Regions from separate parts of the Homo sapiens genome. Here region 1 is linked to region 2. The links come from fine-mapping of genetic effects on gene expression. A gene starts in region 2. The other region holds a variant in brackets. All regions are shown on one strand. Distances are between the middles of the regions.

Region 1 (15,919 bases), 48 kb before region 2:
ATTTTGTCTGTCACCTCCTGTATTGTTTTATTGTGATTCTTAGCTTCCTTAAATTGGGTTTCAGTGTTCTCCTGAATTGCGATGATCTTTGTTCTTATCAATATTCTGAATTCTACTTCTGTCATTTCAGCTATCTCAGCCTGGTTAAGAACCATTATTGGAGAACTAGTGTGATTGTTTGGAGGAAAGAAGACCATCTGGCTTTTTAGTTGTTAGAGTTCTTATCTTGGTTCTTTCTCATCTTTGTAGAATGATGTTCCTTCAATCTTTGATGTTGCTGTTTTTGTTTTTTTTTCCCCCTTTTTATATCATATTTAATGACCTTCGGGGTTTGATTGTGGTATAAGGTGGGTTCAGTAGACTGGCTTCATTTCTGGAAGATTTTAGGGGCCCAAGTCTCAGCTCAGGACTCCCAAACTGTGTGTTATAACTCTGGGGCACTGGTATCAGGCCCCGGTCTTGTTCTCTGGCTCCTTAAGGTTAGGAACCTGCTATGTTGGAGGGGCCTGAGGTGCTCCTGGACCTCTGATCACAACTCTCTGAGGCATGGTGCCAGCCAAAGTGCTTTGTAGGGCTGTGGAAACATGATCCATCCTCAGTCGCATGTGCCAGTCGCAGTGGCAGCAGCGGTGCAGTGGGGTGCACACTTGTTGGCTGCAGCAAGGTGCTAGTGGATGCCGGAGTGCCAGCCTTCGTGCAGGTGTTCATAGAAGCAGCAGTGGCAGCATGGCTCAGGCAGGTTGGGGGGCCCTCACCAGCAACTGTACACATGTTTGTGCCAGTGTTGGGATTAGCATGGGAGCAGGATGCTGCTAGATGCAGGGCTGTGTGTGCCCCCTGTGCACATTCACATGGGAGGCATTGGCCGCTCAGGGCAGGGGTGGGCCTGCTGGTTTTTGTGCCTAGTTTTGTGCCATAGGCAGTGTTCGCATAGGGGCAGGGCTGGGGACTGGCTGGGGCGGAGCTGGCAGCTCCATGCCCAACAACACTCTGATGACAATGCCATTGCCATCACAGTGGACAGTGCTGCAGGGAAAGGAGGGGCAGGATATACTCACACCAGCAGCAGTGGCATGGCAGGGCACACGCTCACACGTATGCTGGTGGGGAAGGGAAGGTGAGGTCTGCCTGTACACGCAGGTACTGGCAAAGTGATATGAAGGGTGGCTGTGGGCAAGTGTGTGCAAGCAAAGCAACAAGGGGGAGGCTGTAGTTAGGGGATGAGCTGGGTGGGCTGGTGTGTGTCCATGGGGGCTACTCTGCTGCAGCACTCTGACAGTCTGGCATGGTCTGCCAGCACAGGTGCTATGATGTGGGCTCCCAGGAGGTACCTGGTGGCTGCACTGCAAGCAGGCATGGACAGGCTGGGGCCCTGGGAAAGGCTAGCAGACCAAAGGGTGCTGAAGTCAGACTGGCCCTATCTCATGGGCAACACCGCCCTGCAGAATTTAGGACCGACAGCTCCCCTGGTGCTAAAGTCTCCTATGGAAGCAAGTTGAGCCTAGGGAGATGGACATCGCTGGCTGTACTCCACCACAAACACTCCCGCACGAAACCTACTGGGCTCCACATCACCTGGAGCTCTGCCCCTACCACTTCTCTAAGCAGCTCTCCTTGCCAACTCAAGTGTCCACAGTGGTTGAGGGGTCTCTTCCTGTCGTGATTCCAGAGACCCATTGCAAGAGCATGTTTCTCCTTGCCTGTTCAACTCATCCCTTCTGCAGGAGTTGTTGGGGGCCAGGAACAAGTCCCAGTGTGTGGTAGCCTCATGCAGGGTTTTCAGCTTCCTCCTGCTTCAGCCCAGCCTCTGTGTCTTCCCTCTGTCCACTCTTGATGCCTTCCCTCTGAAAATCTGGGAAGATCTCTGTGAGAGGTGTTTCTCCTGGCTGCATCTAGTTAGCTCTCTTGCCTCCTTCTCCTGCAGTTAATTTTTATTTTCTTTCTTTGGCTTCATTTTGTTTTTTAAATAGTCTGCCATGAGCACAAATTACTTTTGTAAAGACAGAAATAATTTTTTAAAAGCAATAATGGAGAGTATAGTTAGATTACTGAAAAATAACAAGAAGAAAACATTTAAAGAAATCAACAAAGGGCTGTATGTGTTTCTAATTTATTTTTATTTATTTATTTATTTGAGACAGGGTCTGACTCTGTCACTCAGGCTGGAGTGCAGTGGCATAATCAGGGCTGCCTGCAACTTCAACCTGCGGGGCTCAAGCGATCCTACCACTTCAGCCTCTCAAGTAGCTGGAACCACAGCCATGCGCCACCACACCCAGCTAATTTTCGTATTTTTTTGCAGAGATGGCATTTTGCCATATTGCCCAGGCTGATCCCTGTTAGGTTTTGAAGGGAAGGCGAGGGTTAAAGAAATATGCACACTGTAGAAGTCGGGGACCAGCCTAACGCCAGTGCCTACCGCTGCTTACAGGCTGGGGTAATTTATAGGTATGGGCGGGAGGGGTCTGGGCAGTATGGCTTGCTGCCCGGTAGGATATTGATAAGATGTTCCCGTCATGAGGCAGTTCTGGTCCTTGTTCAGGCGGGATGTCATCGTGGTGTTCCTTGGACCTTTGCCCAGAAGGATATGATAGAGATATTTCTTTAGTTGGGCCTTTGTGGGCCTTGTGGTCAAGTGGTTAGGCAGGGTGTTTCTCATGGCCCAAAAACCCATGAAATGTGTCACTTTTACCAAGGTCTGCAAAATAGCAGGGCGCTTACAAAATGGTGCAGTTTGGATTAACATTCTTGTCTTGGGGCACATGTGTATATGTCCAAGAAGAATGCTGTTTTTATGTTAATGAAGCCGGCATTGTTCGCAACGCAGCCCACAGGCTCCATTACACGGCTGCAGAAATCCAACATCAAGTCATTCACTGTTGGCAGGGGTCATCCTTCCTAAAGTGGATACCTTGGGTAACCCCTGTCTTAGGGTCCCTAATTTTCTCCCTCATAATACTGACAATTGGCCCATGTGTGCGCACCTTCATATCCCGCTTTATCTCCCAAAGGCCGAACTCCCTTGTCCAGGCAGCTATATAGAAACACGATACCATTCTTCTCTGCCAAGTTTGGTATCAGCACTTCCAGGAAAACAACTCTAAAGTCGGACACCCACTGCTGAAAACCCAAAGCCTGAGTGCAGTGCTCCTATTTAGCAGGAAACAGCCAGATAATTAACAATGCCCCTCTTCCTTTTTATGCTAAACTAGAAGGCAAAGACCTTCTGGGCAAAGGTCCAAGGAACACCATGATGACATCCTGCCTGAACAAGGACCAGAACTGCCTCATCATGGGACCATCTTATCAATTTCCTGCCAGGCAGCAAGCCATACTGCCCAGACCCCTCCTGCCCATACCTATAAATTGCCCCAGCCTATAAGCAGCAGCAGGTACTGGCATTAGACTGGTCTCTGACTTCTGTAGGTTTTATGCTGGATATAAAGTCTGCATTTGTTGTTGAACTTCCCTCTTATGTGTGTGTGTCTTTCTTTAAGTCTCGCCTTCCCTTCAAAACCTAACAGTCTTGTACTCCTGAGCTCAAGTGATCCATCCACCTCAGCCTCCCAAATTGTTGGGATTACGGGTGTCAGCCACCATGCCTGGCTGGCAATTTATTTAATTTAGCTTTGTTCTCTTTTTAATAGAAGATTCCTGAGAGGCATAGCTAAATTGTGTGTGTGTGTCTGTGTGTAGAATTAGGCACCCCCTTCAACATTGCATTGTCACTTGGAAATAGAAAATTAGAATTTTGGTCATAAACTATTAGACTATAATAAGAATATAATGAGTTTAATAATTATGTCACCAGCCAATCTATGAGGCCCCTCCTATCTTATAGAAGGGAAAGTTAATACAAAGAGAGATTACAGAGCTTAACCAAGATCACCCTGTGAATGTAGGGCAGAGTAGGTAAGAAATGCTACAACCATTTCTGTCCTTTCCTCCCAAGATATTTTCCTCCAAATGCAGTGTAATGCAAATGTAGTTCAATGTAATATAATATGATGCAATACAATGTATGTGATGTGATGCGATGTAATGTAATATATTGTAATATGACATGATGTAAATATTCATGTAAATCACCTAGAACAGTGCTTGTCATACAGCAGGTGCTAAATCAATGTTAATGCTTTCAGGTCCAAAAAAATAAGTCCAGTATTTCCCACTCTGCTTGGTTTTATAAGGGAAAAAAATACAGCTTGAGGATGAGAAAGAAATGCACTTGAATTTTGGGAAAACAGGCAAAGAGCAAGAGCTAAGGAAGGTGTGAGAAATGAGGAGGCAGCAGTTTATCTAGAACCTGCTTTAGCAACGTTTCCAAAGTCAGGAAGCAGGGATCTGCTGTGAGTTTATCTGGAATGTGAAGGAAGCAGGTGAAGACCAGCTTAATCTCTTGAAAATGGGGAGAGGGGGCCGGGCACGGTGGCTCACGCCTGAAATCCCAGCAATTTGGGAGGCCGAGGCAGGCAGATCACCTGAGGTCAGGAGTTCGAGATCAGCCTGGCCAACATGATGAAACCCCATCCCTACTAAAAAATACAAAACTTAGCCAGGCATGGTGGCAGGTACCTGTAATCCCAGCTACTTGGGAGGCTGAGGCAGGAGAATTGCTTGAACCCAGGAGGCGGAGGTTGCAGTGAGCTGAGATCGTGCCACTGCACTCCAGCCTGGGCAACAGAGCAAGACTCTGTCTCAAATGAAAAAGAAAATGGGGACAAGGAATTTCTGGGGTGGGGCAGGCAGGTCATGAGCAGCTGGGGGAAGAGAGGAGGAGGAGGGAGACCACATGGGGGCCAGCCCGAAAATTGGCCTCCCTTGTGTCATGGTCAGCCAGGGGCTGGAGGTGAGTCACTGGTCATCATCCTCAAAGTCCACACTTGGCTTGCAGTCCCACCTGGTCTCTATGTGCTAAGAAAGGCCTGGTCTCAAAGTAAGAGAAGGAAAGGTGTGAATTGAAGTTCTGGCCGGAGCAACTGAAATACTTGTTTGTTCTTAGAAGGAGAGAGGTCTAGGTTTGGCTCATTCACAGAAAAGAACTTTTCAAAATAAAAAGAGATTTATTATAAGTGTAACAGATTGATGTGGGGCACTGATTAAGTATTTTTTTCTGCCCCATGTTACTGAATAGTGAAGAAATAACTGGGTAGATGGCTTCTTGTTGAGGAAAAGTTACTGAACTCACAAAGGTCAAATTTAAGTAAGGCCTCTATAGCACTGTAGGGTGACTACAGTTAACAACAATGTATTCTATATTTTCAAATAGCTAGAAGAGAGGATTTTGAGTGTTTCCAACACAAAGAAATAAAAGTTTCAGATGATGGATATGCTAATTACTATGATTTAATTATAATACATCTTAGACATGTGTCGAAATAGCACACTCTACTCCATAAATCTATATAATTATTTATGTGTCAATTAAAAAAATAATTAAAAAGCCAGGAGTGGTGGCACACACCTATAGTCCCAGCTACTTGAAAGGCTGAGGAGGGAGGATCATTTTAGTCCAGGAGTTTGAGGTTGCAGTGAACTATGATTCCACCACTGCACTCCAGCCAGGGTGACAGAGCAAGACTCTGTCTTTAAAAATAATAAAAATAAATTTTTCAAAAAGAAATATCGTTTTGTTAATATGGTAAAAAAAATAAAGTCAGGCCTAATTCCTTCAATGAGTCTTTCAAGTGCAGGGTTGGGGGCAGGAAATGAGAGGAGAGAAGAGAGGAGGAGGAGAGAAATTAAACTGGCCCACTGGCCTTGAACAAAGACAAGTAAGAAGGAGACTAAGAGACAGGGAGAAGGTTCCGAGAGCCTAGAGTGGATGTATATTATCTGAGTCTCCTCTCATTCTTGGGGAGAGAAAAGGGGTGCTAAACGCATATCTCCAAAGTTTGAGAGTGCCTTGTATAGAGATTAATACCTGCTTCTTGCCTGAAGTTTCTGAAAATGGGAGGTTCACTGGGTGTCCCACACCCGGGGAGTGAAAAGGGCTGTAGACTTATTTTCAGGAATGAAGAAAATGGGGATATCATTCACATCCCAGGCTCCTGAGTCCTCAAGGATGACCAAAAACCCCAACAGTTACTATGGCTTCGTGTGATGCAGAAGAGAAGGAAGCCAAAGGCATGGGAGGCCCCAGCCATTATCACAGGCCACTACCCTTAGACTGCAACCGCCTGAGACCTGAGCCATTTCTCTGCCCAACTTGAAGATTGCAGGGTCATAAGTTTCACCTATTCTGGGAGGAGAGATATTTGTAAAATATCTCATATTTGTAAAATATGGGATTGGAATTTTAAATGAGATGAACTCTGTCACTTCCTCAAAATGTTAAACATAGCGACCCAGTGTTCTACTCCTAGGTATATTTCAAAAGAAATGAAATGTACACACAAAAATGTCTGCATGAATGTTCATAGAAGCATTATTCTTAGTATCAAAAAATTGGAAACAAACCAGATGTCCAGAGACTGATGAATGAGACAATAAAAAACAGTATGTCCATACAATGGAATATATCTCAGCTTTAGAAATGAATGCAGTCCTGATACGTGATACAGTGTGTGTGAACCTTGAAAACATTATGCTATGTGAAAGAAGCCTGTCACAAAAGATTGTATATATTGTATGATTCCATTTAGACGAAATGTCCAGAATAGGCAAATCCATAGAGACAGGAAATAATTACTTAAGACTGGGAGGAATGAGGGGAACTAGGGGGTGACTGCTAGAGGGATGGGATTTCATTTTGGGATGATGAAAATATTTCAAAATTAATTATATTGTTGGTTGCAGAACTCTGTGCATATACTAAAAACCACTGAAAGGTATGCTCTAAATCAGCAATCCCCAACCTTTTTGGCACCAGGGACCAGTTTCGTCGTAGACAATTTTTCCGTGCATTGTGGGAAGGGTGGTGGAAATGGTTTTGGGATGAAACTGTTCCACCTCACATCATCAGGCATTAGTTAGATTCTCATAAGAAAAGCAACGTAGATCCATTGCATGCTCAGTTTACAACAGGATTTGCACTGCTATGAGAATCTAATGCTGCCACTGATCTGACAGGAGGTAGAGCTCAGGTGGTAATGCTCATTTGCTGGGTGCTCACCTCCTGCTGTGCAGCCCAGTTCCTAACAGGCCATGGATGGGTACTGGTTCACAGTCCAGGGTTTGGGAACCCCTGCTCTAAATGAGTGAATTGCATGGTATATGAATTAGATCTCAAAAGCTATTAGAAAACATGGGACTAGACTGAGTCATAATAAGTGATCTACAAATCATGAAATTGCACTGATATATGATGAGGGTCACTCACTGCCCAACAGGCTAGAAGGATTTCCCAGAATACTACTGGCAACAGTTATTAGAAAAATAAAACATTTGGTCGAGTCTCCTCAATTGAATTGGTGATATAAGGATGGGCAGCCCTCAGAAATAATGCAGCCTATCTACAACTATCTGATCTTTGACAAACCTGACAAGAACAAGAAATGGGGAAAGGATTCCCTATTTAATAAATGGTGCTGGGAAAACTGGCTAGCCATATGTAGAAGGCTGAAACTGGATCCCTTCCTTACACCTTTTACAAAAATTAATTCAAGATGGATGAAAGACTTAAATGTTAGACCTAAAACCATAAAAACCCTAGAAGAAAACCTAGGCAATACCATTCAGGACATAGGCATGGGCAAGGACTTCATGTCTAAAACACCAAACGCAATGGCAACAGAAGCCAAAATTGACAAATGGGATCTAATAAAACTAAAGAGCTTCTGCACAGCAAAAGAAACTACCATCAGAGTGAACAGGCAAGCTACAGAATGGGAGAACATTTTTGCAATCTACCCATCTGACAAATG[G/A]CTAATATCCAGAATCTACAATGAACTCAAACAAATTTACAAGAAAAAAACAACCCCATCAAAAAGTGGGTGAAGGATATGAACAGACACTTCTTAAAAGAAGACATTTATGCAGCCAAAAGACACATGAAAAAATGCTCATCATCACTGGCCATCAGAGAAATTCAAATCAAAACCATAATGAGATATCATCTCACACCAGTTAGAATGGCGATCATTAAAAAGTCAGGAAACAACAGGTGCTGGAGAGGATGTGGAGAAATAGGAACACTTTTACACTTTTGTTGGGACTGTAAACTAGTTCAAGCATTGTGGAAGGCAGTGTGGTTATTCCTTAAGGATCTAGAACTAGAAATACCATTTGACCCAGCCATCCCATTACTGGGTATATACCCAAAGGATTATAAATCTTGCTACTATAAAGACACATGCACACGTACGTTTATCATGGCACTATTTACAATAGCAAAGACTTGGAACCAACCCAAATGTCCAACAATGATAGACTAGATTAAGAAAATGTGGCACATATACACCATGGACTACTATGCAGCCATAAAAAAGGATGAGTGCATGTCCTTTGTAGGGACATGGATGAAGCTGGAAACCATAATTCTCAGCAAACTATTGCAAGGACAAAAAACCAAACACTGCATGTTCTCGCTCATAGGTGGGAACTGAACAATGAGAACACATGGACACATGAAGGGGAACATCACACACTGGGGCCTGTTGTGGGGTGGGGACAGGGGGGAGGGATAGCATGAGGAGATATACCTAATGTTTAATGATGAGTTAATGGGTGCAGCACACCAATATGGCACATGTATACATATGTAACAAACCTGCACGTTGTGCACATGTACCCTAGAGCTTAAAGTATAATAATAATAAAAAAAAACAACCAACAATCAATCACTTAAAAAAAAAAAAAAAAAAGAAAGGATGGGCAGGACCCAAACTGTCAGAAACAAGGTAACCTCAGGACTGGCTGCTTTCTTTGCCCACCTCTCGTGGTTCATTGAGTCTCTCTCCCTCAGCTCATATCTGCTTCTCTCTGCACATCTCATCTGTTCGACTCACCCTGCTTATTTCCTCAGTCTTTCCCTCTACTTTGAACTTCTTTTCTCTTTCTGGTGACTTCTGCTTTCTCAGTTTCTGCTGCCTCAGCGCTGTTCCTGCCCTGTCATAGATTCTAGCAGCCTCCTGACCCTTCTGTGTCAGGCCTACCCACCTCGGTCTTGAGAATATGAGTTGCTGATTCAGTCTCTGGAAGCCAGCCATATCCCAAAGCCTTCTCGTCTTCCTAGTTCTGGCTCTGGGAAGCCAGAGGAGACAAGACTATTGGACCCCAGCACCTAGGCATGGTGTAAGATGAACCCGGTGTGGTTCCCAGCAACTCTGGCCTGAAGGATCTCCAGAGCCAGCCAGTTTCCCAGGGTCCCCCTAGCCAGGGCTGATCAGGGTTACAGCATGTTCCCAGGACTAAACTGAGGACAGGTCTTAAGTCTGTTTGCCTTAAGACCTTGGGAATCTCCGTAAAAATGCTTGGACCAAGTATAGAAGACTTCTAAACTCAAACTCAAGTAAAGGAAACCTGAATTCAAACTCAGGTAAAGGAAATGAAAGGTTCTCACAATGACTTTGGTTTCAGCTCATATTTTTTTCTTTTTAAAGTGAAATGATGATTCATCACTTTCAATACAGTTGAGACAGCTGACTCATGTTTTCGTGTTAGGTCAGTGGTTCCCCAATATGGCTGCAGGTTAGAATCCCCTGGGGAACCTGAAACATAGAGGTGCCTGGGCACTACCTAAGACCTCCTGATTCAAAATCTCCAAGGGTGGGGTCCAGAAGTCTGCATTTTTTGAAACTCATCAGTGGTTCTGTAGTAACCAGCCGTGCTCTAATTGGTGGATTAGCATTAGGGAATCCCTGGGTTTGATGACACTGATGGCAGCAATCCTTGAAGGGAAGTAAGCAAGAGGGAGAAAAGGAAGCTGAGAACCCAAAGACAAACTTCAGCTACTTCAAGATGTGGACACCTGTCTATGTTTCTTAGATTTTCTTTCACTAAGAAGAGCTGATACCATGATTCTCAATCTACCAAGGGGGAGGAGAAATGGAAGCATGCAGAAGTAAGTTGATCTCACCTAAGGCAACAGAATTAAGGCAGGTCTCTGCTTAGAAAGACCACCTTGAGGGATAATTCTGCTCACTTGTTGTTCTCCTCACTGGACAGGAGACCCTGGAAGCAGAGACAATATCTGGTGCACCTCTGCATTCCCACTACCTGAAACATAAAGTTGCTCAATAAATAAACATCCTCTGTTGAATGAATAACTGCAAAGGCAGGTCCACTTTTAGAAACCATTGTGACTGGCTGGAGGGGTGGAGCTATGTGGAAAGTAGAAAAAGCAGTTGACACCAAGGGCAGAGAAGCTGGATTTGGTTCTACTCCTTACTAGCTCTGTGATTTGACCACTCTCTGCCTTGGTGATAAAATGTCTGAACAGAGTTTTGTAAATTACATTTTATAATTTACATAGAAAGCCTAGAATTTGGCTGGGTGTGGTGGCTCACACCTGTAATCCCAGCACTTTGGATGGCCAAGGTGGGTAGATCATTTGAGCTCAGGAATTCAAGACCAGCCTGGGCAGCATGGTGAAACCCTATCTCTACAAAAAATACAAAAATTAGCTGGGTGCAGTGGCATGTGCCTGTAGCCCCAGCTACTCGGCAGGCTGAGGCAGGAGAATTTCTTGAGCCTGGTAGGCTGCAGTGAGCCAAGATCGCACCATTGCACTCCAGCCTGGGCAACAGGAGTGAAACCCTGTCTCAAAAAAAAAAAAAAAAAAAAAGAAAAAGAAAAAGAAAAAAGAAAAGAAAAAACAAAAGCCCAGAATTTCTTGAATTAGTTGATCAACATAAATAGGGCCTTCTTGCTCCTTTTGCTTAAGTGGCATGTTAAAAATCAGTGACTTCTTTAATGACTGTACCTACTCTGAACTCTGTGCCAGATAAGGTAGAAAACAGAAACAAAAAATAAAGAAATTAATATGCAAGTGTTGCTTTTCCTACTTGTTACTCTGGAATCATAAGGCCACATGGCTGTACTTTCCAGTTATTCATTCAACAGAGGATGTTTATTTATTGAACGACTTTATGTTCCAGGTAGTGGGAATGCAGAGGTGCATCAGATATTGTCTCTGCTTCCAGGGTCTCCTGTCCAGTGAGGAGAATAACAAGTGAGCAGAATTATCCTTCAGGGTGGTCATTCTACAGCAGAGACAGAGAATGCCCAATTCTCTTCCAGCCTGCTCTGACAACTTGCACACTGGGAGACACCGGGGCCTGCGTCTCTCAGCCGGAAGTGGGATGCTGGTGATGATGGTGGTGGCTGCATATGTGCCACAGCAGAACTGGCTTCTAGGACTTTATATGGCATAGAGAGGAACTAATTAAGGTGAATGGCCTGAGAAGGCTCCCTCACTTTACAAAAGAGGAAACTGAGGCTTTAGAGGGGTTAGGTAAACAGGTGGCCAGTGGGAGAATGAAGATCCTTCAGGAACTGCAGGGGGAAGAGGACAGTGTCTTGTTCCCCATCGTCAGCAGCCACCTCTGCCCTCTCCACTCCCTCCATCATTCCTCTCTCCTCCTCTGACCTCAGCACCTTCCCTCCTCCCCTGCAGGAAAGCCAGCCCTATGCAGGGGAGCACAGGGGTCACGCTCAGAGATTTTGGAAGCAGACCTCTGTCTAAATCTCTGTTTCACCTCCTGCCAGCCGTAAGACTTCAAACAAACGGCTTCCTCTCTTGGTGCCTGTTTCATTTCATTATCTGTAAAATGGGCACCATAAAAGACTTGCTTTGTGGAGTTGTGCAAATGAAATGAGTTGATACACGGAAAGTGCTTAGAACAGGGCCTGCTGGCATGTAATAAGTGCTTAATAAATGTTAATTATCTTATCCTTGTGCCATTACCTGCTTGGTGTGGCCAACCCATGATCTTATTCCCAAAACATTACTAACTTAGTTCATTTTCCCCTCAAACTTATATTTTAAAAAGTTTAGTTTTTTTCAGATAGCACATTGTATCATTGCTAAGTGTTTTCTAAATACCAAAAAAAAGTAAAAAATAACAGTAAATATTACCCAAATACTCAACCACAGAGATAATTGCTGTCAGTATTTTTGTGAACATAATTTTCTGTAGATCCCTGGACACATTCTGATATAATGGTACTTATTAAAATTGCATATCAATGCAATTTTAATAGGTACCATTCATATGAATGCAATTTAATTAATTAATTAATTATTATTATTATACTTTAAGTTCCAGGGTGCATGTGCACAACGTGCAGGTTTGTTACGTATGTATACATGTGCCATGTAGGTGTGCTGCACCCATTAACTCGTCATTTACATTAGGTATATCTCCTAATGCTACCCCTCCCCCCTCCCCCCACCCCACGACAGGCCCCAGTGTGTGATGTCCCCCTTCCTGTGTCCAAGTGTTCTCATTGATGAATGCAATTTTTTTTTTTTTTTTTGAGACGGAGTCTCGCTCTGTCGCCCAGGCTGGAGAATGCAATTTTAATAAGTACCATTATATCAGAATGTAATTCCGTGAACTGTTTTATCACTTTTCAAGGGTATCATGGGCATTTTTCCATGTTGGTAATTACAGACCCCATGATTATTTATAAAGACTGATAAATATTTTATTGTATGGGTATGCCATAGTTTGTTTAAGCCATCCCCTAGTGATGGCAATTTAGGTTGCTTCTAATTTGTAAGTGTTGATATTACAAAACCATGGGCACCATGAATGACCCTTCACAATCAGCTCTATGCCCTTGTCTGATTATTTCCTTGGGGTAACTTGCTGTAACTGGATCCAAGTGCATATACCTGAAGACGCACATCCCAGTAAGGTAACTCATGTTGTGGGAAAACAGATTGGCCAGTTAGCTGGTTTGGCAGAATCTACATGGATATGGCTTTATGGCTTTTGCAACAATTTGGGACCTAGCTATGGCAGGGCAACTAGGCCTATGGACAGTTGTGGGAGGGCAAATATTTGGAGGCTATCCCTACCCACAGGTTTCACACAACATTTTTCAGACCTGAGTGGGGACTCCGGGAGAATTTACTGACCTCTTCATTGGTTCGTCAGTGCCCTACATTTTCTCTGAATTCTTGGCTTTTCCAGGAAGTCAGGTTAGGGAAGTTCGATCAGCTGAAAAATGTCACATAATTTTGAGGAACCTTCTGCGGGTATAATGTCCAAGGGTATTTTGCTCTACACAGGCCTGGGGCAGATTTTTTCAGGCCCCAAACTTTCCTTATTGCCTGGCAGTGATCCTGAGAAAATGAAGCTGGGATGTGGGGCAACAAACAAGAGTGGTAACCACAACCCACCAGCTTCTGCTGCTAGAGAGTGGTAAAAGATGAATAGAGGCTGGGAAGGAAATGGCCACACGAGGGGCTGCATCATGGCTTGGCCAGCTCTGGTTGGCTCCTCTCACAGGTAGAGAAAGGGGAGGAAATGCCTGGACCTTCAACCTAAAATAGAGGTCAGCTGGTCTACACATTTCCCTCCAGCTTTCCTTCCTGGCCACCTTAGATGCAGTTTCAGAGTTGAATATTGTATTACACAGGCTTCGGATGGGTGAGCAGTGACCAGGAAGGGTCAACAGAATGTGCAGTTTGCCGCAACATTTAGTCATTCCTAACTGAAACGCAGTAATACAGGTTACTATTCACAGAGGTCTAAATATTGCCAGGGCAGATCCAAGTACTTTATGTGTATGAACCCATTTAACTCTCACAAAAACCCTACGAGGTAGGTACTTTCATTGTTTCCATTTTATGAATAGGGAAACGGAGGCATAGAGAAGGTAGATAATTTGCTGAAGGTCAAACATCACAAAAGTGGGAAAACAGATTTAAGTCCCGATAATCTGGCTCTGGGTTTCCTTTATTTACTATTGCTCCTCTTTATTGTTATGATAATACTAGTAATAATGGGCATCTGTGGTTCTGTCTTCAACCAAACACTCCTAAGATAAACAGATAAAGTCAAGGGTGATCAATCTTGAGCTTGTTGAGTAAAGTGAAACTTCCTAAGAGTGATCAAAAGTGGATTAAATAAAAGAGAGTTAAATAGAGCCCCACCTGGCCTGGGATTGAGAACTAGAAAGATATCTTTAGGGACAGAACAATTGGTGATTTTAGTTGGGGGATTTGTGATGTTATCCAGCAGAGACAAGCTTTGCATTAAAAGTAGGATGTATGTGGGCATCTTTGCTTTTCTTCTTTGTCGACTCTAGTTCCTGTACCTCGCTGTTTCTTCTGTCCTTTCTTCATAGGCTACAGCTGCTTTATATCTAATAAACATACACACTATTAATCTCTCCTGAGTGTGCACATTCTGTGTGTGTGTGTGTTGATGTATGGTACATATGTAATTTGTCTCCATCAATTATGAACTTCCTGAAAATGTTATTAATTCATCTGACTTAATAAACATTTTACTTCACGCAATGTGTATCCAAGGTCATGAAATTATGACCTCACTGCTCAAGAAAACAGGAAAACAGTTGCGCTGAATGAGGTACCTAAAGCTGCCAGGGGCCCAGGCAAGAGGCCTGAGTAATGATGTGATGTACTAAGAATGAAGAGACAAGGATATCCGGGAAACTGACCAAAGAGTAGGCAGAGTCAGCGAGCTATTGTGCAGTGGACAAGAAGGAGATTGGCACTGCTGTAAGGGCTGGTCTGGAGATGAGGCACAGTGCATTTCAATTATGGATACCACAGCGAGGATATTCATTCCCTATCCACACCCACACTGGGCAGTCAACATTCCTCTTCTAGCAAGAGATTTTAAAGATGATCATGGTACTTCAACTAGATACTAGCTCACTTACAAAACACATTTGCTGCATATTCTTTTCAATAGCTTCATGTGTTTGTGTATGTGTGTGTGCATGAACATGCGTGTATTTGTAGTTATTCATTTCCAGTAACATCTTGACATTCAAACCAGAGCATTCTCATAACTGTCCTGACTTTTGAGGAAGCAGCCTCCTGTCTCACTTCACCATCTCCACATTCACTCCTCGGTTCCCTAATAGCAACTCCTCTACCCTTCCTAGCCACCCAACTTGAGGCTTTCCTGACTCCGTTCACGAAATTTCCCATTGCTTCCCTTTCACATAGTTTAGGAAAAATATCAAAGAGATACTTCTTTCTGAGCTCCATGACCTACATTCATCAATATTTCTTAGTAACAATTTAGATTTTCTAGATCCACTTTCTCTAAAAGTCCCAACTGCCCTCACAACTTAATCTTTGAATCAACCTACCCAGAAATACCAACACTCTACAATAAAGACATTTCTTCTTTCCATGCAATATAATGAAATCAGTTTTGAAACCAAGAAAGAATCCATATTCTAGGATTCTAGGACTATCCAGGATGTTTAGAAAGGATTTAAGGCTGTTTACAAGGGCTGTTAGATACAGCATACAGCATACAGCATACAGCATACGGTATACATAACATACAGTAAAAAAGCTCAGGAAAGTGGCGCTAGAAAGGGAGGGAAATAAGAAGAGGTCAGAATCACTGTCGCCTCCTCTCCCCGGGCACAAGTCAGGAAGGCATGCTTACTGTCAGGATCTGCGGGCTTGACATGCTTGTATTACCATCACATTTCCCAGGCTTACGACACCCATCACCTGGCTGTCCTCCTGCTTCCATGTCCTTTTAGTTCTTCCTCCACACTGCAGCCCAAATGATCTCATAACACAAGCTGGATCAATCATTTCCCCCTACTTAAAACTTGCAACTGACCGGGCACGGTGGCTCACGCCTGTAATCCCAGCACTTTGGGAGGCCGAGGCGGGTGGATCACAAGGTCAAGAGATCGAAACCATCCTGGCCAGCATGGTGAAACCCCATCTCTACTAAAAATACAAAAATTAGCTGGGCGTGGTGGAGTGCACCTGGAGTGCCAGCCACTTGGGAGGCTGAGGCAGGAG
Region 2 (15,302 bases):
AGCTCCTAACAATCAATAAGACAACTATACAAACTACACATAACCCATGAGGAAAAAAAGTGAAAGGTCATAACATATAGTTCAGAGAATAAGAAATACAGGTGACATGTAAACATATGAAAGATGTTCAATCTCACAATAAAAAATATAAGATATGAAATACCATTTTCACTTATGAGCTTGACCACAATTGTAAATATTTCTAATATTTAGTGTTTGTGAAGATATGAACAAATAGGCTTTCTTACCCACTAATGGGAGGATTTTTTTCTTTAGGGGGCACTTTGATACTTCCTATTACAATCGTAAATGCGGATGTCATAAGACCTTTCACCCTCTCCTAGAAATCTATCCTACTAAAACAAAAACACACACACACACATATATATATATATGTCTGTATATGTAAAGGAAGAGCATTGCTCATAACAGCAAACTGAGAATATCCTAGATTGTCTAAGTGGTTAAACAAATTTTGGTATATTCACAAAATATAATACCATTAAGGACTGAATTCAGCATATGTACATGTACTGATTTTGTAAACACATAGAAAGTAAGTTGCAGAACACTACATGTAGCAGAAATCCACTTTTGCTGAAAAAAAAAAGTGTGTGTGTGTGTTTAGACACAGGAAATGTCCAAGATATTGACAGTGATTATATTTAGGAATTAAATTAGAGGGAGAACAGGTAGGTTTCACTCTTTATTGTTTTTAAAGGGAAAAAAGGAAGGAAAAGACAGAAAAAGAGAGATGAGATTATGGATTTTTTTTGGTGTTCTGTGTCCAAATTTCCAAGTGAAAGAATGTTTTATTTTTAGTATCAGGAAAAAAATAAAACCAAAATTTCATGAATCACTTCACCTTACCAAACCGTAGAATGTTTAGCAGACCAAGTGATATAATGGAAAGAACCCCAAAATGGAGTCCAAACATCCAAACTGACGTAGAATAATAACATTCGTTTATTTTTTATGTTTTTTTCTTTATTATTAAAGTAATATAATGGAATTACAGAAAATAAGAAAAGAAGGGGAAAATCCCCTACTATTTCATCACTCTCACCCAGGGAGCATCTGGTGATGCCTGGAAACATTTTTGGTTGTCAAAATTGGGCTGGTTGAGGGAGGACTGCTATTGCTATCTAGGGGCAGAGGCCAAGAGTGCTGCCAAACACCCTGCAGTGCACAGGCCAGCCTCCCACAGCAAAGACATACAGCCTAAAACGTCAACAGTGCCAGTGCTGAGAAACCTTGTCACCACTGTGAGCAAAAAACATTTCAGTGTATATCTTTCAATTTTTTTCCCTGTAATCTTTTAAAAAGTAATTTATAACCTTATCATACATTTAATACCCATTTGTTTCATTAAAGCTTATGGCATAAATATTGCCCATCTTACTGCATGGTATTCATAAGCATCTTATTTAACAGTTCCATAATATTTAATCCCTCTATTGTTAGGTATCAGATTGTTGCCAATTTTTTAAAATATCATAAGTATTTGTGTGTTCAGCAAATATTCGTTGAGTGCCTACTGTGTGCCAGGGCCCCAGGCTAGGCCCTGAGGATAGATTTTCCCAAATAGTGTTGCTGATCAAAGAAAAAGAACATTTTTCTGGTTCTCAACACATGTTGATAATTGGTACTGTTACACTGTATTTTCACCCATTGTTTAAAAAATATTATTTTTTTGCTAATTTGAAAGATCTGATCATTTTTTGGTCTGTTTATGTCACTGGTTTCTTATCAACCTGTATGAGTCCTTCATGTTAAAAGATAAAAAGGTTAAGTGAAATAACATGAGTCATCATCCTCTTGCCAGTGTTAGGTACCTATTTTTTTATTTCTTTCCTTTCCGTCTATCCTGTAGATGTGGAATAGCGATGGCATTCAGGCCTGTGAGGTCACATTTGCTAAAATGGGGCTGCAGCATCTATCAGACTATCTTTTCCTTGGGCCAGAGTTAACTGTACAGTTATAAAATATTACTTATAAAATATAAATATTACTTATAAAATATTTTATAACTGTACAGTTATAAAATATTAATGTGATATTTTATGATTATTGTATTATAAACACAAATTCACTTACTAGGCAGAAGAAAACTTAAAATACCCCTAATGCCAAGCAAAGCATTATAACCATATGGGAATAAAACAAAGGGACATTAAATCTAGTCATGGATTACAACTAATTTTGCCAATGTTTATGGCCTACTCTGGTGGAGTTCTTGTCCTTTAATGAATTTGGTTGAAATTTTTAGGAGTAATAAAGGCTTCCTGGAGGGTGATGGATTAGATCCAATATTTACTTAATTTCTTATCAAACCCTCTCTTCCACAGCTCCATTTCCTTGGGGTGCAGCTGTCATTAGTGAGGGACGAAAAGGCAGAATACAAAGATCATGTAAATACACACATGTTCTTTAACCTCTAAACCTCATATCAGGGCAGTTGGTCTAAGAGAAGAAGACTGACATCTTCTTCAGGTAAGAATTATGACCATATGTGAATTCCCATATCCGAATGGAGACATTTAAAGAGCAATGAAATGTAAACTGGGGAAGAAGTGATGGCTCATTCAGGTTGGGGAAGTGGGTTTGTCCCTGGGGGAAGCCCAGTATAACACTATGGAACTAATACTACTTCTCTATCTTCCAAGGGTAGGATGGGTAGGAGGATGAGATAGAGAAAAAGTTAAGCAGCCAGGAGCAGTGGCTCATGCCTGTAATCCCAGCACTTTGGGAGGCCGAGGCAGGCGGATCACCTGAGGTCAGGAGTTCGAGATCAGCCTGGCCAATATGGTGAAACCCCATTTCTACTAAAAATACAAAAATTAGCTGGGCGTGGTGGCAGGTGCCTGTAGTCCCAGCTACTCGGGAGGCTGAGGCAGGAGAATCACTTGAACCCGGGAGGCAGTGAGCTGAGATTGCACCACTGCACTCCAGCATGGGCAACAGAGTGAGACTCTGTCTCAAAAAAAAAAAAAAAAAGACAAAAAAAACCGGTTAAACTTCCTTTCTCAAAAGTAGGAGCAAGAGGCCTGCATGGTGGCTCCCGCCAGTAATCCCAGGACTTCTGGAGCCTGAGGAGGGAGGATCGCCTGAGGCTAGGAGTTCGAGAACAGCCTGGGCAACATAACAAGAGCCCCATCTCTACAAAAACAAAAAAAAAATTCTTAAGTAGGATCAAAGATTAAGACAGTTGATTTATTAAACCTCTACTAAGTGACCAAACTTTATTAAACTCCATGAAACCCCATGCCCAACCTCCTTCTCAGTCACACTGAGACACTCTTGTACATTTTCCACATGGGGTTTCAATTCCCCACAGTATTTCTGTGACTTCCTTGAAGACCACACTCTAACTGCTGTCATGTGGCCTCTGCCTACCTACTTTTACTGAGAAAGGCTAAGTTTTTCTTCAGAGTATCATAGTTCTCCTTAAATACTGTTGACGACTGTCATTGTCAACTGATACATCCTTTCTGGAAAGCATTTTCAGTTTTCTTCAAAAGGCCTTTAAAATATTCAGGCTCTTTGACTAAGTAGTTACACTTCTAAGTTTACTTGAAGGAAACAATCAGCAATATTCCAGAGATATATATGCAATGAGTTCAGTGAATGGCTAAGACAGAACCACTGTAAATAACCTTTATACCCAACAGTGAGGAATTAATTTCATTTAGTTACCCAATCTAATCGAATGCAGCAATGAAAACATTTTTTAGAAGGTTATTTAATTCATAGAAAAGCATCCACAGTAAATTTTTTTCAAGTATTAAAAAAAGAGGTAGAACAATGGTACTTTTACTCCTTGTGTTATAAGACAAACCCAGACTGAACTTTGACATAGGCCAAGGTCAATGTGTCTAAGAAATGTTTTATTATACTATTTTTATTCTTAGGCTCCTCCATTCCTCTTTTAGGACTCCTTTGGGTTCTCAGAATGGACAGAGCAAATAAATTCCGTTCAGGGATCCTGGACCTGCTTAGCGCAGGAAGAGACTTACTTAGATGCTGCAGCTGGGATAACTTACACAAGTCATGTTACTAGCAAGCAGCTGGCGGTGGACTTGGACCCGTGTCCAGACCTCCAGCCTAGCATCAGAGCTATATTCTGAACACACAGTCGCATAAGAATGACTACCTATCCTATACTACCTATCTTATTTATTTTTAGAGGTATAAATTATTTTTAGAGCAAAACTGAATCGCGCCTGGAGGAAGGCCAGATGCATTGCCTGTTCTTATTAACCCCAACAGGTAATTGGCTCTACTGCCCCCTAGACCATCGCGTTCCCTTTCCCTTCTCCTCTCTCCATCCCAAAGAAAGGGTGTAGAGACCCTCCGTCCTAAAGTGCCCAGCGAGCTAGCCAGAGATACTGGGCCGTGGGCACCCGCGGAGGAACAACGCTCCCTACCTGCAGGCGGACAGAAGCGCGGCTGGTGCGGAGCCTCGGGAAGCTGCGCAGAACTGGGGCCGCGCGGGACGCGCCAGCTGCTCAGCGTTGCGCCAGGCCCGGAGGCGGGGTCCCGCCCACCTCTGCCCAAGGCAGCAAATCCAGTTTGCCGGGCGTTGGACTTTCCTGACCTTCGGTGAAATCGGCGGAAGCTTTCAGTTTAGGTATCTAGTGTTGGTGTCCTAGGAATAAAGCTGTGTATAGAAATGAAACAGAAAGTGAAACATGTCAGTCCAGTTTTCTTGTAAATGAGATTTTCACCGGGAAGAGTTTCGAAGATTAAAGCAAATCCACATTTAGTATGTTATTAATAAAAAAAGAAATTTACAACAAGCCAACATCTGAACGCACCTTGATTTTACCTTCAGAGGGGTAAGAGCTTAAGGTTACCCCTTAACCTTTATCAGAAAGGCGTCCCCCTTTCTGATAAAAGCCTCTTCAAGGTGACTGAACATCTTGACATAACTTGATATAACTCTACAACATATAAAAAGTCAGCAGCAGACCCATATGGCTTTGGTTTTTATTCTAGAAAGTAGGTGTGTGTGTGTGTGTATGGGTGTATAATAGGAAATATATTTTTAAATCGTGGATTCTGTGACTTCCTCAAAGTTCCTCGACATAATGAAACTTCATTTGCTTTGTCATTAAAAGAACTTCCCATCCCGAGCTACATCTTTTAAGAATGCTCAGGGTCCCTGATATTCTGCCACCCTAAGGATTAAGGCTGCGGAAGCCTATTCTAGGTGAGGGTTAAGAAAGCCCTTTTGAAAGCTTTGGGTTAGTGAATGGGCCCAAGATGACAGACGATGGTGTCATAATTTACTTAAGTATTATCCCGCGCTGAACTTCTAGGTGCTCTCTTTTCTCGAACTCCTTGACCTCAAGTGATCCGCCAAAGTGCTGATATTACAGGCTTGAGCCACCGTGCCTGTGTGCTCCCTTTTCTTTTTTTTCTCTTTTTCTAAATTGAGAAATTGGACTCTTCGTTGTTTGCCTTTCCTTCTTATTCATTTCAACTGCAGTTCAAAATACTGCATAATGAATGAATATTGAGATAGCCCTTGCATTGGTTATGACATTTGCTTCCAAAATAAGAATTTTCACATTCTGATTGTATCACAGATTTTTATTTTTATCTGGGAAATTATTGAGGCTGACACTGCCTTGATTTGGCAGGAGCATGGAGTTCTCTTTGGCCCCAATAAAATTGCAATAGGGTTTGGGCCCAGCTCAGATGTTCCTTCTTTCAAATCACTTTTGAGGTCACATAGTAGAATAGAGCAATTTTGGTGACTGTAAGTTTGGGTGACTTCCCAAAGTTCCCGAAGTTGGGTGACTTCCCAACTTTGGTGACTGTGACCTCTAGGAAAATATAGACATTATGTGGCAATACAGTTTACAGGTACTGCATATATATAGTCTGTGTATGACACACACATGTACAACAAGTTTCATGAAAAAATACTTAGATCTACTATCTGCAATGCCCTCTGATATTTTCATTTAATGTTTTATTTTTCTAAAAATGGTCAAGACCCAGGGCATAAACTTTATGATCTGCTAGTTCATCATGACTCTTGAGGTCTGCAAAAAACAAAACAAAAAAAAACAACTGGCTTCAGAGCCATCTACCACTAACTAGCTGAGTTAACTTGGGCAAATAATTTACCAAGTAGCCAGGATTAAATCATATCCTCCTAGATGGCCTGGATGATCTATGAATAATTTTTTAAACTGGGGATGGGTATTTTGTTTTTGTTTTATGAAAGCAGTGTTCAGGGTCTACCTAAATGATCAATGAGGCAAACGGAATTTGCCTTTCTCTAAAGTTGCTGATGGGAATTGAGGGTATTTGCTCAGCTTGCTGCTCAGTGATTTGCGTATTAGTAATGTGAGGATTCGTGTTTTTGTTCATCTTTCCCACCTGTTTCTACCCTTCAGCCATTCATTTTCCCATACAATTGATCAACTACCCGGAGATTGAAAAACAGGCTGTGTTTAGAAAAAGAGAAATTTTATTACCTCAGAAAAATATGTAAAGCAAAACAGATGGTTAATGAGTGGGGGGTTAAGTCCTGAAACTCTGTGTGAATTTTTTTATTTGGACGAAATAGATGGAGAAGTGCTGAGATGGGAGAAGAGCAGTGGGGAGCCAGGGCTGAAGAGCTAGATACTATGGTCATCTTGAATACCACCACTTCCTATTCATGTAACATCTACTCTATTCATTTTTAGACATATAAATTCATCATTGCCAATGTGCTGTTTCTCAGAGTGTCTCTGATGGTTACTTGCATTACACTCGACTTGGGGTTAATGTTTAAAATACAGATTCCAGGGTTCTGCCTGGGATCCAAACTTGGGGGCAGGGTCTTGGAGGTCAACATTTTAACATTGTCCTCAGGTGAGTCATGTTCACATTTGAAGTTTTGAAAACTAGTGATTTAATATTTAAGGGAAAAAATGAGCCAAGAGTTCTTTGCAAGTACAGCTGTAATTCGCTTTCTTCCATCTAATTTGGCTGATTTATCAGTACCATCCTTCCTTCTGCCTCTGTCTACCCTGCTTGCCACTTTTGCTTCTAAAGCAGGAGAGATGATCCTCGTTTGTACTGATCTCAGGAGGACTGATTTCAAGATCTTATAAGTGGACCTGAAGAGATGTGAGCAAATTCCTGGTGAAGGAGCAATTTCCAGTAAATGTTCTTGATCTTCAAAAGCAGCATATACTAAAGAGACTCAAAACAAAAGACATGACAAACTGCTTTGTTTGCATCGAATATTTTAAAATGCATTTTATTATGTATAAAGACAATATCAAGATTTGTCTCCAGGTTCTATTTTTGATCATGTAGGGTTTTAAACCACTGCCCTATGCAATGCTCATTTCTCTTCCTCTGTTTCCATCCAACCCCTCACATTTGTTGCCCCTACCCTTGTCATAGACTCACATCCTATATGTGTCTCGTGTCAAACAGACTTCGTGGAAAGAATACTTTGTTCTAGTTACACAAAACAATGGTTTAAATGACAGGGGTAATTAACATGTATGGGTGACCAGAGAGTAGCAGCTGTCCTCATCTGACACTCACAATCAGATGCTTCTCTCGCTCACACTGTGTCTCTCTCCTTCCTGTCCTAAGCTGGGGAAGAGCTGGGCAGGTGAAGAGCTCTTGCCTTCAAAGGGCAGACCCCATGCCACAGGTACTTTAAAACAAAGATGAGACCTCCAACAATTTCCCCCACCCACAATAAGTTCATAAATCCAGACATAAGTAGTTATGGCCTGGATAAATGCTGTGGGAGTTGGGGAACACTCTGTGGTAAATATTTTAAATCTAGGGAATCTCAATAAATCAACAAAATGCCACTAAAGATAAAGTTTACAATTGAGAGATACTCTTTCAGGGGATCCTAGAAAATATTTCTTGATTTAATATCCTAGAACTAATAACATAAGTGAGTGTCACACAAATGAAATAGTCACCTTGTGAATCATTTCCTTTGGTAACCACACTTAAGGTGAACTGGATCAAGAACCCATTTAACCCATTTATTTTTGTAGGCTCATCATAAAAGAATGAGAATTTTTCTTTTCCCCACCATTTCCTTGAAAGGACAGCAAGACCTTTCTGCTCTGAGAGAGATATGTTCCAAACAGAAATTAATAAATAAAAATTTCAGATACCGAAAAGTCCTATACAAGAAAAAAGAAGACAAGTCAGAGCAATATGGTATAGTGCACAGGTGTGAGGTTCCTTTAGTTATGGTGGTCAGGAAATGTGTAAGAGGTGATATCTGAGAAATGAATCATGAAGATAACCATGGAAAGATCTGCCAAAAGAGCATATTTGGCCATGGGAAGAGACAGGTACAAAGACTATACGGGTGGAACAAGCTTGGCAAGTTCCAAGGATGAAAAGAAGAGAATTGTGGGTAGAGAGTGAGGAAGAGGGATGGGAGGGTCAAATCATATCATGAAGAGCCTTGAGGACTAGGGGAGAGGTTGCATTCTACTTGCAATGAAAAGCCACCAGATGGCTTAGAGCAGGGTAGTTGCCTGATGAATGTTCTAAAAATACCACTCTAGCTGTGGTACGAAGAATGGAATATGGAGGGGACTTACATTCATGGAGGCTGGAAAATCTTTAGGAGCTGTTTCTGTAGAGCATGTTCAAAATATAATTTGGAAGTAGAACCAGTAGGACTTATTGAGGGATATTAGTGGTAATGGATAAAAGGAAATCAAGGAAGATACATACTCACACACACATATATTTGTATATATTTATATACATTACATATATATTTGTATTTATATACATTAAATATATATTTGTATGTATTTAATATGCTTTTCCAGAGTAGGATACTATAGCCAGTTTCAATATTATGTGCATTCTCTAAATTAAGGAAGTCTAAAAACAAAACAGAAACTTTCCTGGTAAGTGAACTACTGGAAACCAGTCTAAACCAATCAAGAAAATCATGATTTCTAAAGAAAAAATTACAGTCTTTTCTGGAAATGGAGAAATTGGTGGCAGTATGTTGACAGTATTTCAAAGCCATGCTCCTGAGGCTTGCTATTAACCAGGCTCCAGTTATTTTGGAGAAATTCACAAGAAGGGCTGTGGGTTAAGTTTAGAGCATTTTTTTAAAACAATTCTTATGTTTTTTTTTTATGATTCTAAACATTGGAATATTTGAAACATTTAATGTTTGAACATTATTAAGATACAATATTTAGATATTTGACGTTTTCTACTTCGTGTAAGGGGGTTTGGCATCTTTTAGAAGAGAGACTCGAAGGTAAGTACAAATATTCTGAATAGTGCAGTATATCATTAAACACAATATCAGAATTTCATTATTCAACACTTATTCCATGGATTAGAGAATTCTTTTTTTTTATTATACTTTAAGTTCTAGGGTGCATGTGCACAACGTACAGGTTTGTTACATATGTATACATGTGCCATGTTGGTGTGCTGCACCCATTAACTCGTCATTTACATTAGGTATATCTCCTAATGCTTTCCCTCCCCCCTCCCCCAACCCCACGACAGGTTCCAGTGTGTGATGTTCCCCACCATGTGTCCAAGTGTTCTCATTATTCAATTCCCACCTATGAGTGAGAACACGCGGTGTTTGGTTTTTTGTTTTTGCAATAGTTTGCTGAGAATGATGGTTTCCAGCTTCATCCATGTCCTTACAAAGAACATGAACTCATCCTTTTTTATGGCTGCATAGTATTCCATGGTGTATATGTGCCATATTTCCTTAATCTATCTACTCATCTGACAAAGGGCTAATATCCAGAATCTACAAAGAACTCAAACAAATTTACAAGAGAAAAACAATCCCATCACAAAGTGGGCGAAGGATATGAACAGACATTTCTCAAAAGAGGACATTTATGTAGCCAACAGACACATGAAAAAATGCTCATCATCACTGGCCATCAGACAAATGCAAATCAAAACCACAATGAGATACCATCTCACACCAGTTAGAATGGCGATCATTAAAAAGTCAGGAAACAACAGGTGCTGGAGAGGATGTGGAGAAATAGGAACACTTTTACACTGTTGGTGGGACTGTAAACTAGTTCAAGCATTGTGGAAGACAGTGTGGTAATTCCTCAAGGATCTAGAACTAGAAATACCATTTGACCCAGCGATCTCATTACTGGGTATATACCCAAAGGATTATAAATCATGCTACTATAAAGACACATGCACACGTATGTTTGTTGCGGCACTATTCACAATAGCAAAGACTTGGAACCAACCCAAATGCCCATCAATGATAGACTGGATTAGAGCATTCTTTTGACTAAGTACAAAGAAGGAAAGCCTCGGAGGCTGAGAAATGCCATCAGGTGGGCATCAGCACTTAGGTGAGTGTGTGAACTCTGGAGATGAACTGGATAGGCCACCCTCCAAGCACCTCCACGTTCAGCACCTCCAGAACCTCTCCAAATCCCCTCATTTAGGGATTTTTATGGGGACTTCATCATGTACACATCAGCAATTGTTACCTCAATCTTCAGCCCCTCTCCCCTTTTCACAGGATGAGGTAGGAGGTGAAAGTTCCAAGCTTCTAATCATGGCTTGGTCATTCTTGTGACCAGCTCCCATCCAGAAGCCCACCAAGTTACTTCAGGAGAATGAAAGATGCTCCTATCACTATGGAAATTCCAAGGGATCAGGAGCTCTGTGTCAAGAACTGGAGTCGAAGGTCACATAGAACAAAAAATTTACCTAGCATACCTATCACTCAGGAAGTTACAAGTCTTTTAGGAGCTGTGTGCTGGAAAATGGGGAAAGAAATTAATGTATATTTATTTATTATAATACCACATGTAATAAGGTAGATCATTTTACTCATCAGAGTTCAGGAACTGTTCTCTGTTATTTTTATACACATTCAGAGTAGGAGACCAAGTTGAATTTCACAGGATTGCAGGAGGCTGAGATTCACAGGCTGAGAATAGGATCATGTGAGTTGCATGGGTTTCAAGAGAAGGAAGTTAACAGGGGCTTAGTATAGTGCTGTAGTGACCTCGCAGTTGAGGAGGATAGATATAAGGTGCTACTGTCAGTGGGAAAAAATAGGAAAGAGAGAAATATCTAGAGAAGATTTTAGGAGTTTCTTGTTCAATATGCTGTGTGAAGCATTTGCGGGGACTCCTTCAGAAAGCATAAGGTGAAGACCCTCATTATTCTTCATGCTTCACAGTTTACGTTTTCATTCAGTTTATGTTTTCTTAGAATGCTATTACATGCATGGACTGAGCCATGTGAAGCCTCAGTTTTATTCAGGTTACACTCTGAAATATAATCATTTTCAGCTCAAAAAACCTTCCTTGACTTTATTACCCCTTACATTTTTATCTTCTCCAATTACTCCTTTTCATAACAAACATCAATAAACTGTATCATTACCTTTTAAAGCTATCAAATTAACAAAACAAAACACAATAATTATAATAAAGATTAAAATAGCAGCAATGGTAAAACATATACCATTTAAAAAATGTCAGACCCTATTTTTGTGATTTACACATATTAGCTCATTTAAATCTTACAACAATCCTGTAAGGAAGGTACTATTATTGCCTCTATTTTAGAGATGTGGACACTGAGGCACAGAGCTTTAGTAACTTGTCTAAACGACACAGCTAGGAGATAGCACAGCTGGGATTCGAACCCAGACATCTGGTTCCAGTGTTTATGCTCTTAACTATTGTGCAAAGGTATAGTGAAATCAGCATCCTTATTCACTGCTGGCATGGTGTATTTGTTCAACTCCAAAAAGTTAAATGCAGAGTTACCATATGACCCAGCAATTCTGCTTTTACATATATACCCAAGAGAATTGAAAACATACGTTCATACAAAAACTTAGCAGCATTATTTATGACAGCAAAAAAAATGGGAACAATCCAAATGCCCCACAATTTTGAATGGATAAACAAAATGTGGTATATCCATACATTGGAACATTAATCAGACATAAAAAGAAATGAAGTACTGGTACATGCTACAACTTGGATGAACCTTGATCATACTAAGTAAAAGGAGCCAGACACAAAAGGCCATAGATTGTAGGCTTCCATTTATATAAAATGTCCAGAATAGGCAAATCTATAAAAACAAAAAGTAGGTTAGGGGTCCCCAGAAACTGGGGGAATGGGGAGAATGGGGAGTTTGGGGAGTGGCTGCTAATAGGTATGAGGTTTCTTTCTAGGGTGAAGAAAATGTTATGGAATTAGATAATGGTGGTGGTTGTACAACTTTTTGAATGTATGAAAAACCAATAAATTGTACAATTTAAGGTGGTACATTTTATGGTTGTGAATTACATATCTTAATCTTAAAAATCTCTAGGTAGGGAGAGAACAGGATCTGAGTCCACTGATGCCATTATATTACACTGCCACATGGTGTCACCGTTGAGGAATGGATGAAGTCCAAAGAAGGCTTACACAAAGCTTGTGTCCAGGTCATGCCCAAGCTACAGAGGTGCCCCAGGATTGGAGTGAAGGTTAAAATCCAGAATTTGGGGAGCACCATCCCAGAATGGTTTAATATTAAGGAGGTTCTAGCCTCAGCCCCACACTGTGCAACTATTTGCAGTCCTTCACAGACCGAAGTTCTTGGCTAAACCTGGTTCCCAGCTCAATGGGGAAATTCAAATCCTTGTGAAAGCATCTCTGTTAAAAGGAGACACTGCTAGGCACATCTTAAACTTCCAAACACTTTATTTTTTGAAAAACTGCTTCTTTATGGAGGTCCAAGGAAATATTGGGCAATTTTTACTGTCCTGGGATAGGGAGCATCAAATGAGTTGAGGATTTTACATCAATTTTCTCTAAAATATTTATACTACTTAACTCAGTGTATACATATGCATGTGCATATATATATGTGTTTATATATATACACACGTATATATACACACATGTATATACGTGTGTATATACACACATGTATATACGTGTGTATATACACACGTATATACGTGTGTATATACACACATGTATATACACACATGTATATACGTGTGTATATACACACGTATATACGTGTATATATACACACATGTATATACGTGTATATATACACATATGTATATATGCGTATACACACATGTATGTATATATACACATACATACGTACATATACATATACATACATATGTATATATACACATATGTATATATATATGTATACACACATATGTATATATACATATATATACTGAGAAATATCCAGCAATGGAAGTTGTTACATACACACTTATTGAAAATCCTTTAGCTGTTAAAAATGGTAAATATAAATGCAATGTAGCAACATAAAAATCCTTATGTTATAATGCAAGATGATATAAAACACATATTTATATATATGCATAAAAATGTACACATATATATTCACAAATTCATACAACTGAAAATAATTCACATACCAGTTAAAGTTATATGCCATTTGATTCTGAAATAAATTTCCTTTAACCCTCTTACTCCACATTTTATAAAATGTGTCCAATATCTATACCAAGACTTTTTTTTTCAATTTCCTGGGCATATTTTTCTATGGTCACTTTTTTCACTTATGTTTTAAAATTATGAAAAACATCATACATACAAGAAAATTTATAATGTGTGTTTTCGGTTTAACATGTATCCATCAGGAATCAGAATTTTACTCAGTTGGTTTGATTAAAGAGATATTAGTGAAGACACTACTTAAAGGAGTATGACTAAGAGAACCATCCAGTTGAGTCATCCAGAGTCTAGCAACAGCAGGAAGACTGCGCTCTCTCTAGGCTACATAGCAAAGGAGAAAAGTGTTTCCAGAGCCCATGGAGCTGGAGCCATGGAGAAGGGACTGCTTGCCAAGAGCTGCAATTGTGGAGAAACACAACCACCACCAGATACTCAGCCCCAAACAGAGAAAGAACAGAGAAAATATACCCTGATGTCTTTTTCCTCCTGCCTCCCATCTCCCTGAATGCCTCCCGCTGTCCAAACTCAAATGGAAACCAGCTGAGGAGAGCCCAGGTGGTGCCGTCCAAAGAGGTCAGCTTTGGGGTATAGAACAGGGCAGGGAAGTGAGGAGAATGAATATGATGGAAGGCAAACAGAAAACCTAGACAGTCTAATTGTTTTGTCACCCAGAATTTATTCTTTTCCTTTGCTCAGATGAAGAGCAGCTCATCCCTTACATATGAGAATGACAGAGTCTGACAAGATTTCTCCTCGACCAAACTTTAGTCAGGCTCCTCTAAGCCATCTCCTTGATTAGATATTGACCTTGGGCTGCAGTGTTCATCCTTGCAGAATCAGTGTTGGCAAGAATCCTGCTAAGTCAGTTTAGAGAGGATCTTCCCACCCTGAATGTTTGACCACTCTCAATATCTGATCAAATTCCTTACCCCCACCAGCCCCCAGGTGATGTCTGCTTACCCTGGCCTACCTTTAGCAAGAATCCTGTTAGGTCAGTTTAGCAAGGATTTCCCCTACCCTTGCTGTCTCTTCTTAGTAATTTTCCATCCACGGACCCCACCCCCATCCACACAACCTGCTCCTCGGCTATAAATCCCCACTTATCCTTACTGTATTCAGAATTGAGCCCAGTTCTTTACCAAGGTCTCTTTCCCCCTATTTCAAAAGTTGCTGAATAAAAATCTATTTTTACTGCTACAGCTATTGTCCAGCTTTGATTTTCCTTAACAAGCCTCATCAGCTGCCATATTGCCTTGAGGGGATGTCAGTTCAGGCACATTCTCACCCAGAAACTAAATTGTAATATTTATCTCCACCACTACTCTTTATGCAGGGTAATAGGAAAAGAGAGTCAGGGAAGAAGTAATTAACATTTTAAATGGAGAGCTACTATAATTCCTGCCTCTAGAGCTTGTTGCAAGGCTAAAATTAATAATCATAGCTTCCTACTCATTTACTTATGTATGTTTCCCCTGCCCTATGCCAACACCTAGGTAGATCAGGATTTTTTTATCTGGTATGCTTCAACACTTTAATTTCTTCATGATCTGAAATTTCTGCATTACTTCAGTTATCTGATAATCATTATTATGGCACACGGCAGTATTAAGAAGTGCCCAGTGAATCTCCAGGTGTCATGCATAGTTCTTCTTGCCCTCAATATATAGATGTAACCCAATTTCCTTTTGGTATTTGGGATGAATCATACCATTCTGTCACTGTGAGGAATCAAAGTGACCAGAGGGCAGTTTCAGCTTTCGAATCAATGAATTGAAATTCAATTCAATTCAGTGACGGGGTCTTCTAGTGGCAGCATTCCTT

The links.
Region 1: its variant is fine-mapped to the expression of CD274 in tibial nerve (GTEx, PIP 0.96).

The regions. Positions count from the first base shown.
Region 1 is chr9:5,487,466-5,503,384 of GRCh38, reverse strand. All of the region lies in intron 2 of INCR1 (interferon stimulated noncoding RNA 1), which reads left to right. Among named protein-coding and RNA genes, the nearest start is that of PDCD1LG2, 15 kb to the left of the region's middle. RefSeq lists enhancers at 997-1,498, 9,285-9,344, 9,375-9,624, 9,835-9,924 and a silencer at 3,982-4,276. The variant G/A (reference allele first, on the strand shown) is at 7,866.
Region 2 is chr9:5,439,722-5,455,023 of GRCh38, reverse strand. CD274 (CD274 molecule) reads right to left here and starts at 4,482. Exons shown (of 7, transcript NM_014143.4): 1 at 4,428-4,482. RefSeq lists enhancers at 4,206-4,365, 4,656-4,705.